Linked DNA regions of Homo sapiens: region 2 is linked to region 1. The links come from fine-mapping of genetic effects on gene expression. A gene starts in region 1. The other region holds a variant in brackets. All regions are shown on one strand. Distances are between the middles of the regions. Region 1 holds the start of ICOS (inducible T cell costimulator). Region 2 overlaps ICOS (inducible T cell costimulator).

Region 1 (2,814 bases):
AAGGACTTCATGAGATTCTAGAAAAGGCATAAACCAGCAAGTAGCCCAAAACTGTCCTTGTGCTCATTCTACATTCCTCAATCCTCTTAACTGCACTTAACTCACTTTGAGCCAGCACAAGATGAAACATTTGATCAATTTGATTTCATTTTTTTTTCATTTTTTGTAAGAACAGTAAGGTCTATTTTTTTGCCACTGAAAAAATGTATCCCTAGATAGGATCATACCTACTAAAAGTTCTGCCTTCACTTTTAGTTTATTTGATTATTTAAGTTATTTAATATTACTTAACTTTCCTTTTTTCAACCTCAAGAATAGGGCTCAGTGTGAAAGAGAAAACAAAAGTAGTACAAATTATATACAGTAAAAAGCAGCAGAAACACGTGTATTAACTTACATTGTATGTAGCATTATTTAAATTGTCCATATAGAGTCTGCTATATGCCATTCAAGAGAAGGAATCAGGGACTCCAGAATGATCTTTTTTGTAAGGTCTACAGGGGCTAGGAAGTATTTTTACATTATCCTTTCCTCCTTGGCTTTTTAGGGTGAACTCTGATACTTAGTGTCAATAAAAACTCTATGGTGCCCTGGACATTTCAGATAACAGATCATCCAGGTAAGATTAAAATCAAAATCCTTCTTTTCAAAGACTTCCCATTTTATTTTCTACCACAGAAAGAATTCCCAGTCCAAATGCCAGAGCTATTTAATTTTCATTCTGTTGACACAAGTCATTTTGCCTTTCATCTTTCTCTAAGAACAGTAAGCCACTCTGCTAGTTTATCCACTGACAGGTAACTCCAAGCAGGTAATTTAAAAATTTAATGGTCTGATGAAACATGTTTTTCATCTCAAGACACAGTATCAAAGGCAGCAATGCAAACTCAATGCCATCCACAGTGACATGAGTGACATGGTGCCCTTGGCCATATCCTGAAACTATTCCTACTTTCAAAAACCAAAACCACTGTCTTTTGGGTGCGTAATTTTTCTACCTTTGCTTTTTCTTAATGTTTACTTGAATTATAACTTAATAAGAAATATTCAATACACCACTTACCTGTTAAAACTTTAATGCGCAAGCAGAAGAGAAAGAAATACCAGAGGCCTGACTTCATGTTTGCCAGAAACAGTTAACAGTCCTCGCGTTCAGTGTTCAAAGCTGACAGTGAATTCAGGCTCTCGGTTGTTTTCTATTTGCTGGAAAGGAAGTGGGTTTTCTGGGAGTTTATGTAGTGTCACGCTTACCATCAAATCAAGGGGGTGTTTCTTCTTTGATGCCAATGGCTATATGAAAGGCATTATTGCTTATGACATGAGTTAAACAATGCATGGATTATTGATGATTTTGAAGACAGAGGAAAACATTACCCTTATTCTGGTTCCTATAAAACAAGTTAAAGAGATTATGCCTGTATTTTTCAGAACCACCCTACTTCTCTGAATCAATAGTTATGGGGGTTAACAGGACCTAAAAATACTCACATGATGAATAAAACATATATTTTGACACATTTCTATCTTATGCTAGGTGCTCCAGAGATAAGAAAGCCTTTGAAATAGGACAAGAAACAAACAAAATTATTATAGAAATTGAAGTGAAAAGATCTGAAAGAAGAGCATCATAGGAATCTGAGAAATGATATTTATGTGGCATTCATTGTAGATTGCAATGTTTCAAATGATGGGGTCAGTTTTAAACTAACTTAAACCCTGCTCCTCATATTACAGCAGAGTCTGTAGGAACCAGGGATTCCTCACCTACGGCTCAGTGAGACCAAGAATGTTTAAAAGCCTGCCGTGGTCTCCCCATCCCTGCAGGGAGGTAAAGTAGACAATAACAACAATAACAATAATAATTACATAGATAATTATATGTATATGTACTTAAATGTTTTATATGAAATAATATATCTTAATGCAAAATGTAAAAAATTAAATGTAATATATTTTATATATAAAATATACCTATTTTTATATATGAATATAGCTAATATTACATTTATATTATGTTTTATATGCATGTAAATGGTTACTGTTTGTATATATATTTACATTATAACTATAGTTTATACATACATTAACTCATTTAATCTTCTTAATCATCCCAATGGTGACCACTAATCTCCCATTTTACAGATGAGGAAAACTGAGGCACAGACAGGTAACGAACCTGGCCCAAGTCATATAGTAAGTGTCAGTGCTATGATTTAGAGAGTCTGGCTCCAGAGTCCTCACTCTTAACCGAAGCAGGTAGAACCACCAATACCAAGGCCTGCTGATCCCTCCATCCAGAAGTCTGAACGCGCTTCCAAGATGCTAGATCCAGGCTGGACTTCCCTTAGCCTGCAGAAATGACATTTAGATGAGAAGCTGAAATCAGCTGGCCAGGGAAACCAAGGTGTGAGTCCAAAAGGTCCAGGCTCTGAAACAGATTCCAGGTTTGGGGCTTTAGGCCAGCCACTAGGAATGCCAGACCACAGCCAAGGGGTCTGCAAGGTAAGGAGGAGGCTGATCCTGCAGGGATCCCCCTAGCTGCTGAAGCTTCCCCTAGCTACCTTCTGTAGGGCTCCTGGGTCTCAGCAGTGGGTGTGAAGGAAGCTGTTTGAGGGACTGAGCTAGCCTGAGAAGTAGAGCCTGGGCTGCCAGGACCCCTGGGACCTTGCTACCCCAATCTCCTCCCTTTTCACTGTACTCCCCGTAGCATCATGAGGAAAGGCTTCCAGCCCCACCGGCACTGTGCTAGAGTCCTTTCCCAGCACACAGGCAGGCAGTGGAGAACAATTGACTTCTTCCAACCTAGGTGAGGCC
Region 2 (2,814 bases), 22 kb before region 1:
AATGCTCTCCATGTGCCAGTTCCCTACAAGAAGCTTTCCCCTCTCCATTGCCTTTCATACACACAAACACACACGTGCACACACACACACACACACACACTCACACACACACCATGCAAACTCATCTTTATGCTTCAACACCCAGCACCAGTTCCCCATTTCCAGAGAAGTTTAGCTCTCGACTCCTATAACAGACATTATCTAAACTCATCACTTTGAAACTGTCCACCTCTGATTGCAGCTGCTGCTGGGGCAGAAAGCGCTGCATGGGCTGACTGTTCTAGCACAACAGCCCCACTGCATTTCACTGCTTTTCTGCCTCCAGACTTTCTCTGAAGACTCATCCCAAGTAGGCTCATCCCAAGTAGAGGCACAGCTCAGAGATGAGGGAAAGCTAATGCCCTCCGCAGGCAACCCCAAATCAGTGAGGATGGAGCCAGTGGTTGCCATCCTTCAAGAGAATGATTCTGGGAGGCATCTGTACACTTCTCAGAGGTCCAATGAAGTCAGGCCTCTGTGGCCTGGAGCTGAGACCTTGATAATAATGCGCCCTTCATTTGCTTCTCCTTGTTGGCTGTCTCACTCTCCCTGCCCCCTCACCCCTTCTTCCTGGGATCACCTCCCAAATAAACTACTTGCACCCAAGTCCTTATGTCAGGTTCTGCTTGTGGGGATCCAAACAGCCAGAACACATTAAGCAAAGAGATTGAGAGATCATATATTTTTTAAACAGCAAAGTAATGAAACATAAGCTCTTTGCAAGTGTCAAAGCTAGGTATTAACTGTCTAGGGAACCAAAAGAGTCACTGAACACTTTGAGCATCAATTTCTGTCATCTAAAACATGAAATGTGAACTCAAGGATCCTTTTTAGCTCCCATCCCATGCTATAATTCCATGACAACGCAAGCTATGTGTGTCCCCTTTAGATAATCTGTAGCCACTGAGGGGTGGAAAAATGCAGTGGCTTCTGTCTCATTACACATCGCACATCATTCGAACCTCAAGGGCATAAGACATGAATTTTCCACAATGGAAGCTTCAAACTTTCTGGGTGCTCCTCAAACTTGGCAACTTTCAGTTTTCTGACTCTTAACAGAAAAGGTCAAATTTCCATGTTACTGAGACTTCTAAAGCCATCCAAGTTCTCTAAACTTGCACACTCTTTACCTCAAAATAACCAGATATCTTCATCAATTTCTCCTTCTTCCCTCTAGCAGTACCAGCACAGATCTCTCTTCCTAATCTCAGTCCAAAATTAGCATATATCTGTCCAAATTCCCCAGAGTGCCTCACTCAGTAACTCACACTTAACTGATGCTCAATAAAC[G/A]CTCATTGAATGACTGAATGAACCCTTCAACAAAAAACACTTAGAATCATCCCAACTTTTGAAACATCAATGGGAAAATTGCCTTGATACTATGGTGGTTTATGAGCTGTTTGTGTGTTTAGTTTCAATAGTGGCTTACAAACCTATTGCTTGTTTGTTTTCAATATACTGCAGAAAATATAAATCTAGTTAAAAGTGAGAAATCCAGATTTTCACAGAAAATTCTAGAATTAGGCCTTGGAGATGTTTTCCTTTCCTTTAAAATTAAAAAAAAAAAAATTAACATTCCAGGCTTACTGTGAAGAAACCTCTTCCCTTCCCAAACCCCCAAATGGAGTCATACCTGTGAGTCTAGATTTTTTGGCTGTGTTCACTGCTCTCATGAACATGTATTCACCGTTAGGGTCGTGCACACTGGATGAATACTTCTGAAAGAAAAAGCCAGAAACATGCTTGGTCATCTTTTCTTCTCCATCTCTTTGTTTTTTGACTGTTTTCTATTCTTTGTTGAAGTGGTATGTGACAAAAACATGATAATGTGACTTAGGTTCCTGGCTTTAGGCTAAGTAGAAAAACAATATGAAAAGGGCTTTACATAAAAAGAGCTTTCTACTGAACTTTCTTCCTCGTTTTTGCCTTTATTGTTTCTTTCCCAGCAGACTTAGACCATGGGCGCTATCTCATTCTCTTCCTTCTTTATGTCTCTTTCCAAATTCCACTCTCCCACAGATATACACTGGCCAATGACCACACTGTGGATATACTTGAGTACTAGCATACTCGCGTAATATGCAGAGTGGTGTCAGTTCTTTGATTGAGAACCTGTAATGCAAGAGACCAAAAAGAATATCCCCCAGCACAGGGAGATTTTTGTTGTTGTCATTGTTGTTTATCTTTCTAAATAGCTCCTCAGTGGTTTTCTTTAAAAGCAAGGAGTCTAATAACCTACCATGTAAAAAAGTTGTCAATTTCCTTCTCAGCTACAATTGACACCTTAGAAGGCTTTCTTGCTGACTGTTTTTAACTTACCAGCTAAGCAAAACTTATAACTAATTGTTTCATCTCTGCCCTGCCTCTCAGGAACCTTGGATTCAAATTCGCAGCCCATGCATAATAATTTTTTAAAAATCAGAGTCATCTATTTTGATGTTTTAACCTTCCTCCTGACCTTTAGTCTTCTCTTGACCTCAATTTCCTCATCTAGTTTGAACAATAATAATAATAATGTAACTCTCTGTAAGCCATCAAGTCAAGTCCTCTTTGGAATGTGTGGGCTATAAAACAAATACATAAATTTCTGTTCCAAGTGATTAGTTTAATTAGTAGGTATGTCTTGGGGGGAAGGAATTGTCTCCCTGTTGGTCAAATTACTCTGACAAGAGCCATGTGTACTTTTGATGAGGAAATAATCACTGATGTGCATCTGTAAAGCAGATACAAGGAAAGATAGAAATCGCTTACCTTTTTTGTAAGCCAACAAATAAG

Evidence for each region. PIP is the estimated chance that this variant, and not a neighbour inherited with it, causes the effect.
Region 2: its variant is the best candidate, but not a certain one, in a credible set for the expression of ICOS in whole blood (INTERVAL, PIP 0.60).

What each region holds. Positions count from the first base shown.
Region 1 is chr2:203,935,122-203,937,935 of GRCh38, reverse strand. ICOS (inducible T cell costimulator) reads right to left here and starts at 1,173. Exons shown (of 5, transcript NM_012092.4): 1 at 1,064-1,173. The coding sequence starts at 1,121. It overlaps LOC101927840 (a long non-coding RNA gene), which reads left to right. Exons shown (of 4, transcript XR_427213.4): 2 at 548-619; 3 at 1,735-1,828.
Region 2 is chr2:203,956,742-203,959,555 of GRCh38, reverse strand. ICOS (inducible T cell costimulator) reads right to left here. Exons shown (of 5, transcript NM_012092.4): 3 at 2,791-2,814; 4 at 1,673-1,757. Among named protein-coding and RNA genes, the nearest start is that of ICOS, 21 kb to the right of the region's middle. The variant G/A (reference allele first, on the strand shown) is at 1,330.